4 linked regions of the Homo sapiens genome follow. The protein of the gene in region 1 purifies or fractionates together with the protein of each later gene. This does not show direct contact. Each region holds a gene or a part of one and is shown on either strand. Other genes may lie near its edges.

Region 1 (3,416 bases):
GAGCTTAAGTTCAGGTATTCTGACTCAAGGGTTACCAGAGTTCACAAGGAAAAATACAGGACACCAACTTAAATCTGAGTTTCAGATAAGCAATGAATAATTTTTTAATCATAAGTATATCTCTTGCATAAGTACATCTCATGCAACATTTGGGATATACTTACACTAAAATATTATTTGTGGTTTATCTGAAATTCAATTTAACTGGGCGCCCTGCATTTTATCTTACAACTGTGACTCCCAAATTTGGTGCTTGTTCCTTAGTATTCTGTGATGTTCTGCTGTAATTAAAAATACAAAGTACTGGACAGGCATGGTGGCTATAACCCACCTGTATTCCCAGCACTTTGGGAGGCTGAGCAGATGGGTTCCTTGAGCCCAGGAGCTCAAGACCAGCCTGGGTAACATGGTGAGACCCTGTCTCTAGAAAAAATGCAAAAATTGGCCAGGTGGTGGCATGCACCTGCAGTCCCAGCTATGCGGGAGGCTGAGGTGGGAGGATCACCTGAGCCCAGGGAGGTCAAGGCTACGGTGATTCGTGATTACGCCACTGCACTTCAGCCTGGACAACAGAGTGAGACCCTGTCTCAAAAAAAAAGTACTTTCTCTCTTGTGACTTTCACCCTGGCAGTTTCAGGTTTAGAAATCTTTGGGGGGGTGCTGGGCATGGTGGCTCACACCTGTAATCCCAGCACTTTAGGAGGCCAAGGTGGGTGGATCACTTGAGGTCAAGAGCTCGAGACCAGCCTGGCTAACATGGTGAAACCCCATCTCTACTAAAAATACAAAAATTAGCCGGGTGGTGGTGGCACGCGTCTGTAATCCCAGCTACTCGGGAGGCTGAGGCAGGAGAATTGCTTGAGCCTGGCAGGTGAAGGTTGCAGTGAGCCAAGATCGCGCCACTGCACTCCAGCCTGGGTGACAGAATGAGACCCTGTCTCAAGAAGAAGAAAAAAAAACAAATCTTTTTTTTTCTTTCATTTAACAAAGACGCTTATTAATTTATCTTTCCCCATACTCTTAATCCTCACCAGAGAAACTTGCCCAGGCCAAAGAAGAGAACGTGGGCTTACATCAGACACTGGATCAGACACTAAACGAACTTAACTGTATATAAGCAAAACAGAAGAGTCTTGTTCCAACAGAAACTCTGGAGCTCCGTGGGTCTTTCTCTTCTCTTGTAAGAAGTTCCTTTTGTTATTGCCATCTTCGCTTTGCTGGAAATGTCAAGCAAATTATGAATACATGACCAAATATTTTGTATCGGAGAAGCTTTGAGCACCAGTTAAATCTCATTCCTTCCCTTTTTTTTTCAAATGGCACCAGCTTTTTCAGCTCTCTTATTTTTTCCTTAAGTAGCATTTATTCCTAAGGTAGGCAGGGTATTTCCTAGTAAGCATACTTTCTTAAGACGGAGGCCATTTGGTTCCTGGGAGAATAGGCAGCCCCACACTTTGAAGAATACAGACCCCAGTATCTAGTCGTGGATATAATTAAAACGCTGAAGACCATAACCTTTTGGGTCAACTGTTGGTCAAACTATAGGAGAGACCAGGGACCATCACATGGGTAGGGATTTTCCATCCAGAGCCAATAAAAGGACTGGTGGGGGCCGGGGGTGGCTATTGTGGGAAGTCATAACCCACAGATAGATCAACCTAAGAATCCTGGCCCTTCTCCACTCTCCACCATGCAGGACAAACATCTTCTCAAGCAGTCAACGTAGAATGCTTGGGAAATAGTCATAATTACCCACATATAGTAATTAATAGATGGTAATTAATTGATCCTTGATGTGATGTTCTTTTGCATATTTCCTTCATTCTAAAGTTGTTCCCTGGCCGGGAGCGTTGGCTTTCGCCTGTAATCCCAACACTTTGGGAGGCCAGGACAGATCACTTGAGGTCAGGAGTTCGAGACCAGCCCAGCCAACATGGCGAAACCATGTCTCTACTAAAAATACAAAAATTATGGTGACGCCTGCCTGTAGTCCCAGCTACTCGGGAGGCTGAGGCAGGAGGATCGCTTGAACCCAGGAAGTGGAGACTGCAGTGAGCCGATATCGCACCACAGCGCTCCAGCCTGGTCGACAGAGTGAGACTCCATCTCAAGAAAAAATAAAAATAAAGTTGTTCTCTGAAGAGCAAATGTCTCATTCCAGTAATGACCCACTCAGCAGGAATATGGTGGAGTTCAGTCCAATTCAGGTCAGCCATATCCAAAAGACCACAAGTCATTACTAAGTTGAGCAAAAGAGTTTTTATCTATTAGCAGAAAGGGCCTCTCTGGCAGCAGAGATTAAAAACTGGCCCAACTTCATTTCCATACTTCAGGGAACAGCAAATTGAGGATTTACTTATCTAGGACTTGAATTCCTTCTTTGGGACCAAGTTAATAAAAGACCAAGAAACTCCTGATTAAACTGGATAATGAAGGATTCTGTAGACAGGGCTGCACGTATCGGCTTTGTTTGACTTCTCTTTTCTCAGTTAACATCTCAGAGCTAGAACATTCCACATTCCCCAGCAGCGTGTGGGGGCTGACTAAAGTTTACAATTCCAACTAAAAATCACCCTGCTTCTGGCTTATCTGAATCCCTTACCCACCCCACCCCACCACCCTACTCCTATTTATTCAGCACCACACTACCCAGGAAATACACTAGCAAATTGTGCAATGGAATAAAATCCACACTTTAGATTCTTGCAACTGTATCATATGTAATAGTATCACTTTTTCTACATTTTGGTCAAATAAATTTTTACATAAACTACAATTTGCGTGAATTTTAGAATGTGTGGGGGTACACAGAGCATTTTGGTTCAACAAATGTTAAAGGGATGGAAAGGGAAAATAACCAGAGCCAAGAATGTAGACAAGGTTATCTATTTGCTTTATACTGTGACTTCATGATACAAGGATATTACAGTCTCATTGCAGGCGAGAGCACTCAGCCTCGGTCACTCGAAAACTCCTGGCCTTCCTTATCCCCTACGCTGCCTAAGCCAGGCTGTGAAGAATGAGTAGGATTTTAAGAGATAAAAGCAGGGAAAATCATCTCTGTTGCCTGAGTTAGGAAGATCTGCCTAGCTAAGGCTGAGTTACACATACAAAGGAAAGCAGACCAGCATGGGCACCATAGTGAGACCCCGTCTACAAACAATAACAAAAATTTGGCCAGGTACAGTGGCCAAATTACACCTGTAATCCCAGCACTTTGGGAGGCCGAGGCTGGCGGACCGCTTAGGGCCAGGAGTTCAGGACCAGCCTGGCCAACATTGTGAAACCCCATCTCTACTAAAAACACAAAAATGAGCTGGGCATGGTGGTGCACACCTATAATCCCAGCTACCCGGGAGGCGGAGGTTGCAGTGAGCCGAGATCACGCCACTGCACTCCAGCCCCGGTGACAGAGC
Region 2 (3,908 bases), on another chromosome or scaffold:
TGTTGCCTGCTGGGCATGTCTAATTGCCTTCACAAAATTCTGTCATCACTACCTTCTTTTCCAGTAATTCTAGACTTTAAGATGTTCTGGATTTAGTCCAATTGCAGTTATTCTCAAGGTATTTCAAAAGCCTACCTTGAACAGTACATATATAAGTTGCCCTCTTTATTTTTATTTAATTATTATTATTTTTTTGAGACAGAGTCTCGCTCTGTCCCCTAGGCTGGAGTGTAGTGTCATGATCTCAGCTCACTGCAACCTCCGCCTCCCTAGTTCAAGCATTCCCGAGTAGCTGGGATTACAGGGGCGTGCCACCACACCCAGCAAATTTTTGTATTTTTAGTAGAGACGGGGTTTCACCATGTTGGTCAGGATGGTCTCGAACTCCTGACCTTGTGATCCACCCGCCTTGGCCTCCCAAAGTGCTGGAATTACAGGCATGAGCCACGGCACCCAGCAAGTTGCCCTACTTACCGAACAAATGTGTTAACTTAAAAGTAGATGACCTGTTTTGTTTTGTTTTGTTTCGTTTTTTGAGATAGAATCTTGTTCTGTCACCCAGGCTGGAGTGCAGTGGCGTGATCTTGGCTCACTGCAACCTCCGCTTCCCGGGTTCAAGCCGATTCTCCTGCCTCAGCCTCCCGAGTAGCTGAGATTACAGGCATGTGCCACTACACCTGGCTGATTTTTGTATTTTTAGTAGAGACGGGATTTCACCATGTTGTCCAGGCTGGTCTCGAACTCCTGACCTCAAGTGATCCGCCCGCCTCAGCCTCCCAAAGTGCTGGGATTACAGGTGTGAGCCACCATGCCCAGCTGATCACCTGTATTATTCTGTCCTACCTGCCTCTGCATAAGTAATTAAAGGCATTTTTAAGTTCATTTCATGAATTAATAGACATGGCTTTTGAGAGAGTTAAATGTGAATATTCTCTTTGCCATCAGGACAAAGCAGGACCTCATAAGGAAATCTACCCCTATGTCATCCAGGAACTTAGACCAACTTTAAATGAACTGGGAATCTCCACTCCGGAGGAACTGGGCCTTGACAAAGTGTAAACCGCATGGGTAAGCGACAAACCACTGAAGAAGGCAGGAAAACAATCCAGAGAGGTGTGGGTGGATGACATTTCAGTGTGCTATAGTAAGACCTTTCAGTGTTCTTGTTAGAGGTAATGGCCGTGAGCATGAAGAGATTTTGAGAATACCAGTAATGGTAAATTTAAAGAACTGAAATGATTTCTAGTTGTTGTCATTATTTTCTTTCTTTCCTTCTTTTCTTTCTTTCGTCTTTTTTTTTTTGAGATGGAGTCTTATTCTGTTGCCCAGGCTGGAGTGCAGTGGTGCAATCTAGGCTCGCTGCAGCCTCCGCATCCTGGATTCAAGCCTCAGCCTCCCAAGTAGCTGGGACTACAGGCCACATGCCACCACAACTGGCTAATTTTTGTATTTTTAGTAAAGACGGGATTTCATCCTGTCGGCCAGGCTGGTCTCAAACCCCTGACCTCATGATCCACCTGCCTTGGCCTCCCAAAGTGCTGGGATTACAGGCTTGAGCCACCGCGCCCGGCATCATTATTTTCTTACTGGTAGAAAGACAAATAAAAGCCACCTTAATTAAAGAAAAATCTTCATACAATATTCTAGGCATAAACAGTAGCATAGATGATAATATAGTGAGTCTGTGTACACATATCCAGATTTTCAGATACTTTTATTGTTGCCACATTTGCTTTGGTGTGTTTAAAGTATTTCTATTTGGGCTGGGCACAGTGGCTCACGCCTGTAATCCCAGGACTTTGGGAGGCCGAGGCGGGTGGATCACAAGGTCAGGAGTTCGAGACCAGCATGGTGAAACCTTGTCTCTACTAAAAATACAAAAATTAGCTGGGTGTGGTGGCATGTGCCTGTAGTCCCAGCTACTCGGGAGGCTGAGGCGGGAGAATCACTTGAACCCAGGAGGCAGAGGTTGCAGTGAGCCGAGACTGTGTCACTGTACTCCAGCCTGGGTGACAGAGTGAGACTCTGTCTCAAAAAAAAAAAAAAAAAAAGACTCAACTTGGCTGGCAGCAATGGCTCATGCCTGTAAGCTCAGCACTTTGGGAGGCTAAGGTGGAAGGATTGCTTGAGTTCAGGAGTATCAGGAGTTTGAGACTGGCTTGAGCAACATAGTGAGACCCTGTCTCCTTTAGTTAATTAAATACATACATACATAGAAAGAAAAATATTCAGAATTCAAGGAATTTTTATATTCAGTCTTCCTGTTGAGAAACTGAACAGAAAATGCTGAAAACTTTGTAATCTACTTTTAAGATTTTTTTTTTTTTTTTTGAGACGGAGTCTCACTCTGTCACCTAGGCTGGAGTGCAATGGCATGATCTCGGCTCACTGAACTTCCGCCTCCCGGGTTCAAGCCGATTCTTGTACCTCAGCCTCCTAAGTAGCTGAGATTACAGGCATGCACCACCATGCCCGGCTAATTTTTGTATTTTTAGTAGAGACGGTTTCACCATGTTGGCCAGGCTGGTCTTGAACTCCTGATTTCAGGTGATCCACCCGCCTCAGCCTCCCAAAGTGCTGGGATTACAGGCATGAGCCACCACGCCCAGGTGGGATCTCGTTTTAAAGCTTGCTTTAACGGAGTGGTCTTTTTGTTTGTTTTTGTTTAATTTATTTATTTTTAATTTTGTTATAGAGACAGAGTCTCACTATGTTGCCCAGGCTGTTCTTGAACTCCTGGGCTCAAGTGATCCTTCCACCTTGGCCTTCCAAATTATTTGGGTTTCAGGTGTGAGCCAAAAGCAATGGTCTTTTCATTTTATCTTTGTCCACCCCCTCACCAGCACAACCTCCCTGAAGTAGCTCATCTTTATAATATATGCAATGGTTTTGACTTCTGTGAGTACTTAAAGAAAACTAGTTGTTCAGAATGGAAATTTTCCTAGTTATACTTTTGAAGCTCTTGTTTGTTTTTTGTTGTTGTTTTGAGACGGAGTCTCACTCTGTCGCCCAGGCTGGAGTACAGTGGCACGACCTCTGCTCACTGTAACCTCTGCCTGTTGGGTTCAAACAATTCTCATGCCTCAGCCTCCCTAGTAGCTGGGATTACAAGTGCCCACCACCATGCCCGGTTCATTTTTGTATTTTTAGTAGAGACCGGGTTTCGCCATGTTGGCCAGGCTGGTCTTGAACTCCTGACCTCAGGTGATCCACCCGCCTCAGCCTCCCAAAGTGCTGGGCTTACAGGTGTGAGCCACCGCGTCTGGCCCTGTGATTGATATTCTTTTTCTTTTTTTTTTTTTTTTTTTGAGACGGAGTCTGGCTCTGTCACCCAGGCTGGAGTGCAGTGGCATGATCTCGGCTCACTGCAAGCTCCGTTTTCCAGGTTCACGCCATTCTTCTGCCTCAGCCTCCCGAGTAGCTGGGACTACAGGCACCCGCCACCATGCCCGGCTAATTTTTTGTATTTTTAGTAGAGACGGGGTTTCACCGTGTTAGCCAGGATGGTCTCAAATCTCCTGACTTCGCGATCTGCCTGCCTCGGCCTCCCAAAGTGCTGGGATTACAGGCGTGAGCCACCGCGCCCAGCCCTGTGGTTCATATTCTATAATGAACTCCTAAAAGATGGTTTTAGTTTTCATTTTATCAAGTATTATTCCAAGGGGTCCAGAAGATCTTTTTTATGTAGGATATATTCTAGCTATACTAACTTTTTTTCTTTTTTTCTTTTTTTTGTTGGGAGACAGAGTCTTGCTCTGTCATCCATGCTGAAGTGCAATGAAGCGATCTCGGCCCACTCCAACCTCCGCCTCCCGGTTGAAGAGATTCTCGTGCCTTAGCCTCCCGAGTAGCTGGGACTGCAGGCATGGGCCACCACACCAGGCTAATTTTTTGTATTTTAGTGGAGA
Region 3 (3,908 bases), on another chromosome or scaffold:
GAAAGAAAGAACATATTCGTAACTGAGATAAAAGTTTCACAAGATGATATTTATACTACTTCTGCTGTACTTTTTTTTTTTTTAACTTTTTATTTGGAAATAACTTGAAGTTGGTGCACTGCACTCATACTTTTGTTCCATTAAGCTCACTAAATTGATTTAATTATTTATTAATGGGTCATGGTATCTGGCATTTGAGAGATAGCTTTAATCTAAAGGAGTAAATACCTTGAGAATTTTCAGCAGAAATTTAGGCCTTTGCCTTTACTCCTGTCTCCAATTTTTGAGAAAAGAAAGGTGTTTTTTTGGTTGCTGTTTGTTTTATTTTGCTGATGTGAAATAGGAAGGATTTTTCAGTGCACGGTATCACAATGCATGTGTAAGATGCTAACATGACTTCATGTAAGCTAGGTGATTATCCAATTAACTTCACTTCCAACTCTGGATATATATCCCTGATGAGTTCCAATAGGAACAGTAGTGTATGTAATTCTGCTCTCAGTCCCTGGAATCTGGAATACATGAGGAGGATAACATGAAGTGCCTGGGTTGCTATCAGAGTACATGGAAGTAGAGGTTTCAGGTTATTCTTATCAAGACTTCTCTAGTTATAATGTGTCATCAATAGCTGATTCTTCTTTCTGGCAGGCGGAGATGGTCCACACAGGTTTGAAGTTGGAGCGAGCTCTGTTGGTTACAGCTTCTCAGTGTCAACAGCCAGCAGAAGTAAGTTCACTACTAGCTGGTTTCATTTTGGTTTGATGCTCAGGACGAGTTGAGAGATTTATGTCAAGCTATTATAACATTTTAAAATAGACCTACTAGGCTTTTGATAATATATGTTCATACCAAGTCCCAGAGGTAGAGCCATACTTCAAGTGCCTTAATGGGAAGGTACTATTGGGTACTTAATGGTCTCTACTGGCTTTTTCTCTGTCATTTTGCATAGGACTGTGGTTATCCCTGGGACTTTGCTTGCCTGCCTCTTTGCTGAGTCCACATTCATCATAGTGTCTCCAAAGCCCTTTAAAGATGATTCTCTTGCTTCACTGTGGATGGGCTTTAGTAGTGCTCCTGTGGAGATCTTAAAACTCCTACAGTATTGCTTCTCTCCTCATCCTTCACTGGTTGGGAGACTCTCTCTTTAATTTTACTCCCACCTCAAAATTTTATGGTGCAAGATGTGAAAAGTTGAATTAGAGAAAATTTAGATTTCTCTTGGAGTCAAAGAATATAGGTTTCCTTCTTTTGCATTTGGTTTTCCTAGTTACAGAGGAATAATAAAGCAAGTTGTCCTAAATGCTGTATTAAAACCCTTGACCCTCAGCATGCCTAGATAATATAAAAATAGTGCAAGATAATGTCAAATATATTAGATTCTGGTTAAGTGTGCTGGCTCATTCCTGTAATCCCAGCACTTTGGGAGGCTGAGGCAGGAGGATCACTTGAGGCCAGGAGTTTGAGACCAGCCTGGGCAACATAGCAAGACCTCGTCTCTATTAAAAATTAAAAAAATAAAATAAATAAAAATAGCCAGGCAAGGTGGTGCATGCGTATAGTCCCAGCTACTTGAGAGGCTGAAATGGGAGGAAGATTTGGGCCTGAAAGTTTGAGGATGCAGTGAGCCATGAACACACCACTGCACTCCAGCCTGGGCGACAGAGCAAGACCTTCTCTCAAAAAACATTGTGTGTGTGTGTGTGTGTGTGTGTATAGATGCCATCTAATTCTAATATGTAGAATTAGATTTTAATTCTTAATCTGTCCTGAATGGTTAAGATCTGAGAATTGAGATGTTCAGGAAATGGAGCTTTGGAGGAAGGGTGCAAACACAAACAAAATTCATCCATTTTGCCAAGGTGCCTACTTGAATGCTAAGCCCCTAATTGTTTTTTATTTTATTTATGTTTAAAAAAAAATTTTTTTTTTGAGACAGGGTGTTGTTTTGTCACCCAGACTGGAGGGTAGTGGTGCAATCACAGCTCACTGAAGCCTTGACCTCCCAGGTGTAATGATCCTCCCACCTCAGCCTCCTGAGTAGCCTTGACTACAGTGTGCACCACCATGCCTGGCTTGCTTATTTACTTACTTATTTATTTATTTATTTCTGAGATGGAGTTTCTCTCTGTCGCCCAGGCTGGAGTGCAGTGGCAGGATCTCGGCTCACTGAAACCTCCACCTCCCAGGCTCAAGTGATTCTCCCACCTCAGCCTCCTGAATAGCTGGGACTACAGGCATGCGCCACCATGCCCAGCTGATTTTTGTATTTTTATAGAGATGGGGTTTCCCCATGTTGCCCAGGCTGATCTTAAACTCCTGGACTCAAGCGATCTGCCCACCTTGGCCTCCCAAAGTGCTGGGATTACAGGCGTGAGCCACCATGCCTGGCCCTAATTCTTTTTATTATTTGTAGAGACAAAGTTGTGCTGTGTTGTTCAGTCTGTCTTGAACTCCTGGTCTCAAGCAGTTCTCCTGCCTTGGCCTCCCAAAGTGCTGGGATTACAGGCGTGGGTCACCATGCCCAGACTAAGCCCCCTAATTGCATTTGATTCATCAGTTCTTTACAGCAGCTACTATATGGCTGGCAATGCATTGGGGGCTTTCATGATGATAAAAGAGCTCGTCTTTGAAGAATTAATGAGAAAGTAAAACATATTCACATGGGTCCATTAATAGTTTGTATTGGTGAGTGATAAAATGCCAAGATTGGTTATGCTGACAACAAATGCTGTAGGAGGCTGGTGTGGCTGGGTTGGAGGGCCCTCATGAAGCATGAGGAAAATTTGGATTCATGGGAAAAAAAGAGAACATCATGAGTAAGGCACAGGAATGATGTCCTGAGTGTATGTCCTCTGAGTGGAACAAAAAAGAGACAGGTGGCTGAAATGGAGGTTCTGTGGTATAGCTGAAGTATGGGTCCTGATCATGAAGAACCATCAGGTGCAGCCTGAGGAGTTGGAACTCTACGAGGAGAGTGAGATGATGAGCAGTATTTTAGCCTTAGGAATCAGGACAGGACTCATGCAGTTTATTTGGGTGCTCACTAGAGTCCATAGAGAATTCTTGCCTTCAGGATCAGAAGGCATAGACACCTTTGTGGAAAGATGTTAACCTGAATCTTTTCTTGTATCTTTTCCTAGAATAAGCTTTCCGATTTGTTGGCACCCATCTCAGAGCAGATCAAAGAAGTGATAACCTTTCGGGAGAAGAACCGAGGCAGCAAGTTGTTTAATCACCTGTCAGCTGTCAGCGAAAGTATCCAGGCCCTGGGCTGGGTGGCTATGGTGAGCAGCGCAGATTCCAGGGCTGGGGGTGGGTATAGATTTTAAGAGGGAAGGCAATATAGTTGGAGAGGTCCTGAGTCACTGACAGCTTGTCTCTCTCTAGGCTCCCAAGCCTGGCCCTTATGTGAAAGAAATGAATGATGCCGCCATGTTTTATACAAACCGAGTCCTCAAAGAGTACAAAGATGTGTAAGTTCAGCCTTTTCTCTCTTTTTTTCTTTTCTGAGACAGTGTCTTGCGTTGTCACCCAGGCTGAAGTACAGTGGCACAATCACAGCTCATTGCAGCCTCAACCTCCCAGCTCAAACAATCCTCCCACCTCAGTCCTCCAAGTAGCTGGGACTTCAGGCACGCTCCACCATGCCTGGCTAATTTTCTAATTTTTTCGTAGAGATGAGGTCTCACTGTTTCCCAGGCTGGTCTCTAATGATTCTCCTGCCTTGGTCTCCCCAAAGTGCTGGGATTACAGGTGTGAGCCACTGTGCCCAGCCAAGTTCAGCTTTTTCTCAAGGGGTAAAGGATAAACCCATTTGGTTACTTGCTGGAGTAGCACTTTGGAGTTACTGAGGGCTGCCCTTAGCCACTGTGCTGGTTTTATCTCAGGGCTGCTTTCTGGAGAGCTTT
Region 4 (3,908 bases), on another chromosome or scaffold:
TCAAAATAAAATTTTATGGTTTAAAATAGATGTAAAGGTAGAAATTAACAGAAAGATGTTTTGTTTTTAATTTTGACATTCAAAAGGGGACTAGTAAACTGGAGACGTTTTTGTTGTGTTCTGGATTTGGGAGTATTTTTAAAAATAATTGTTTTAAATGTAAAATAAATAATAGGTAATTCCTAAAGCAACAGGGTTAGTGTTTCAGGAAGAAGTACTTTAGACTTCCACTGGGAAAAAATTAATTTTTCTTATTGGTTAGACTTTTGCAGCTCCAGAGATCGGTTGTCTGCCAAGAATCAGACCTTCCTGATGAGCTGCTTTATGGACGGGCAGGTTATCTGTATGCCTTACTGTACCTGAACACAGAGATAGGTCCAGGCACCGTGTGTGAGTCAGCTATTAAAGAGGTACTATGGGGTATGGGTAACTATGGGCGTCTCTACCATTCAAACCTATTTGCTAGCATTGAGTTGTATTAACAGCTGGACTTTACTTCTAGGTAGCATTACTTTTTTAAAGCAACTCATCAAAAGTAAGAAATAGTCCCTGCTTTTTTCTAGGAACATTAACAAAAAAAATCTGTACTCTCTTTCATCTTGTATTAATTTATCAGTTTTTACTGGAGCTAAACAGCAGCAGCTTCAGAAAGTTAGAATGTTTATTTATCTTTCGTGAGATGTCTCAGCTGGTAAGCATTTCAGGCTGGTATGAGTGGGGACCAGCTTCTTCTGTCTCATTCTGCCTTATCCTAGGGGCATACCCTTATTTGCAGGACCAAGGCTAGTTTAGCCCCTCAGCCTATGAAGGGAAAAGAGGAGGTGGAGGCAACGCAGCTTCCTTGTTAGGGACTCAGTCTCCAAGTTGCCCTCTTTACTTCTGCTCCCATCCCAGTGCCAGAACTTCATCAAGTGTCTGTGTTCAGCTGTCTCTAACTAGGGAGCCAGATGCCCAGCTAAAACTTGGAATACTTTCCCAAAAAGGATGAGAGGAGATAGACGTGAGGAAACAGTCATCCCAGACATGATATTCTGTTGATCTAACTGAAATCCTTCATGCCACAGCAGACCTCATATCATTAGCCTTTTATAAATAAAGCCAGTTCCTCCAGCCTTTCCTGATAGGTGTATGTGCTGCTCTTTTGGGAAAAATACTGCAGCTACGAAGCAACTAAGAAATCCAAAACAGTTTTATAAGAAGTTTTTCTAGATTTTTCGTTGACTTTTTATGCAAAGAATTTTTTATTTCTTAGACAGTATCTTTTCCTACTCTGACATTGGCTCCTGATTTCTTTTTGCCTGCATTTATTAATTTATAAAATAAATATAACTATATTAGCTGCTAACTGCTTAAAGACTTTTAGATTAAGGCTTCTGCCTCTCTCTCTATATATGTCATATATATATGACATACTGTTAATTAGACTACAACAGGGTACATATACAGTTTTAGATTTATGCTGTCTTGTTATCTCTGTAGGTAGTCAATGCTATTATTGAATCGGGTAAGACTTTGTCAAGGGAAGAAAGAAAAACGGAGCGCTGCCCGCTGTTGTACCAGTGGCACCGGAAGCAGTACGTTGGAGCAGCCCATGGCATGGCTGGAATTTACTATATGTTAATGCAGGTAGGTAAGAATACTCTTACACACTACAGTATATTTGATCAAACATGAAATGGGAAATGAATCCTGCATATAAACAAAGCAGTCTGGATTGAAATACCCTACTTTGAATCGCTGATGCGTAACTCTGCCACATAAACCACAGGCAGTGGATTTCTAAGAGTCCAGTGAGTTCCTGAGTACATTTGGTATGGAGTCTTTTTTTTTTTTTTTTTTTTTTTTTTCCAATTTTCTTTTTTTTTTTTTTTTGATCATTCTTGGGTGTTTCTCGCAGAGGGGGATTTGGCAGGGTCACAGGACAGTAGTGGAGGGAAGGTCAGCAGATAAGTGAACAAAGGTCTCTGGTTTTCCTAGGCAGAGGACCCTGCGGCCCTCTGCAGTGTTTGTGTCCCTGGGTACTTGAGATTAGGGAGTGGTGATGACTCTTAACGAGCATGCTGCCTTCAAGCATCTTGTTTAACAAAGCACATCTTGCACCACCCTTAATCCATTTAACCCTGAGTGGACACAGCACATGTTTCAGAGAGCACAGGGTTGGGGGTAAGGTCACAGATCAACAGGATCCCAAGGCAGAAGAATTTTTCTTAGTACAGAACAAAATGAAAAGTCTCCCATGTCTACCTCTTTCTACACAGACATGGCAACCATCCGATTTCTCAATCTTTTCCCCACCTTTCCCCCCTTTCTATTCCACAAAACCGCCATTGTCATCATGGCCCGTTCTCAATGAGCTGTTGAGTACACCTCCCAGACGGGGTGGTGGCCGGGCAGAGGGGCTCCTCACTTCCCAGTAGGGGCGGCCGGGCAGAGGCGCCCCTCACCTCCCGGACGGGGCGGCTGGCCGGGCAGAGGGGCTCCTCACTTCCCAGTAGGGGCGGCCAGGCAGAGGCGCCCCTCACCTCCCGGACGGGGCGGCTGGCCGGGCGGGGGGCTGACCCCCCCGCCTCCCTCCCGGACGGGGCGGCTGGCCGGGCGGGGGGCTGACCTCCCCGCCTCCCTCCCCGGACGGGGCGGCTGGCCGGGCAGAGGGGCTCCTTACTTCCCAGTAGGGGCGGCCAGGCAGAGGCGCCCCTCACCTCCCGGACGGGGCGGCTGGCCGGGCGGGGGGCTGACCCCACCACCTCCCTCCCGGACGGGGCGGCTGGCCGGGCAGAGGGGCTCCTCTCCTCCCAGTAGGGGCGGCCGGGCAGAGGCGCCCCCCACCTCCCGGATGGGGCGGCTTGCCGGGCGGGGGGCTGACCCCCCCACATCCTTCCCGGACGGGGCGGCTGGCCAGGCGGGGGATGACCCCCCCACCTCCCTCCCGGATGGGGCGGCTGGCTGGGCGGGGGGCTAACCCCCCCACCTCCCTTCCGGACGGGGCGGCTGGCCGGGCGGGGGGCTGACCCCCACCTCCCTCCCAGACGGGGTGGCTGCCGGGCGGAGACGCTCCTCACTTCTCAGACGGGGCGGTTGCCGGGCGGAGGGTCTCCTCACTTCTCAGACGGGGCGGCCGGGCAGAGACGCTCCTCACATCCCAGACGGGGCGGCAGGGCAGAGGCGCTCCCCACATCTCAGACGATGGGCGGCCTGGCAGAGACGCTCCTCACTTCCTAGATGGGATGGCGGCTGGGCAGAGATGCTCCTCACTTTCCAGACTGGGCAGCCAGGCAGAGAGGCTCCTCACATCCCAGACGATGGGCGGCCAGGCAGAGACGCTCCTCACTTCCCAGACGGGGTGGCGGCCGGGCAGAGGCTGCAATCTCGGCACTTTGGGGGGCCAAGGCAGGCAGCTGGGAGGTGGAGGTTGTAGCGAGCCGAGATCACGCCACTGCACTCCAGCCTGGGCACCATTGAACACTGAGTGAGTGAACGCGACTCCGTCTGCCATCCCGGCACCTCGGGAGGCCGAGGCTGGCGGATCACTCGCGGTTAGGAGCTGGAGACCAGCCTGGCCAACACAGCGAAACCCCGTCTCCACCAAAAAAATACGAAAACCAGTCAGGCATGGCGGCGCGCGCCTGCAATCGCAGGCACTCGGCAGGCTGAGGCAGGAGAATCAGGCAGGGAGGTTGCAGTGAGCCGAGATGGCAGCAGTACAGTCCAGCTTTGGCTCGGCATCAGGGGGAGACCGTGGAAAGAGAGGGAGAGGGAGAGGGAGAGGAGGGAGAGGGAGAGGAGGAGCCTTTCCAATTTTCTTTCGGTATGGAGTCTTAAAGCAGATTAGTTATCTGTTCCCCACACTTTTCTGGGTTTTTTTTGTTTGTTTGTTGTTTTTTTTTTTTTTTTTTTTGAGACAGAGTCTC

The links. Proteins that work in one complex are often made in the same cells at the same time.
Region 2: the proteins of TPM4 (region 1) and COX5A fractionate together in Homo sapiens (co-fractionation; one large-scale study listed by BioGRID). This does not show direct contact.
Region 3: the proteins of TPM4 (region 1) and CAP1 fractionate together in Homo sapiens (co-fractionation; one large-scale study listed by BioGRID). This does not show direct contact.
Region 4: the proteins of TPM4 (region 1) and LANCL2 purify together in Homo sapiens (affinity purification with mass spectrometry; one large-scale study listed by BioGRID and IntAct). This does not show direct contact.

Annotation. Positions count from the first base shown.
Region 1 is NC_000019.10:16,100,230-16,103,645, forward strand, and holds the end of TPM4 (tropomyosin alpha-4 chain), read left to right. Parts: intron 1-1,034; coding exon 1,035-1,117; 3' UTR 1,118-2,773; downstream 2,774-3,416. UniProt on the Homo sapiens protein: Binds to actin filaments in muscle and non-muscle cells. Plays a central role, in association with the troponin complex, in the calcium dependent regulation of vertebrate striated muscle contraction.
Region 2 is NC_000015.10:74,920,808-74,924,715, reverse strand, and holds part of COX5A (cytochrome c oxidase subunit 5A, mitochondrial precursor), read left to right. Parts: intron 1-945; coding exon 946-1,059; 3' UTR 1,060-1,068; intron 1,069-3,908. UniProt on the Homo sapiens protein: Component of the cytochrome c oxidase, the last enzyme in the mitochondrial electron transport chain which drives oxidative phosphorylation.
Region 3 is NC_000001.11:40,061,087-40,064,994, forward strand, and holds part of CAP1 (adenylyl cyclase-associated protein 1), read left to right. Parts: intron 1-648; coding exon 649-726; intron 727-3,140; coding exon 3,141-3,284; intron 3,285-3,387; coding exon 3,388-3,473; intron 3,474-3,908. UniProt on the Homo sapiens protein: Directly regulates filament dynamics and has been implicated in a number of complex developmental and morphological processes, including mRNA localization and the establishment of cell polarity.
Region 4 is NC_000007.14:55,399,695-55,403,602, forward strand, and holds part of LANCL2 (lanC-like protein 2), read left to right. Parts: intron 1-262; coding exon 263-410; intron 411-1,479; coding exon 1,480-1,626; intron 1,627-3,908. UniProt on the Homo sapiens protein: Necessary for abscisic acid (ABA) binding on the cell membrane and activation of the ABA signaling pathway in granulocytes.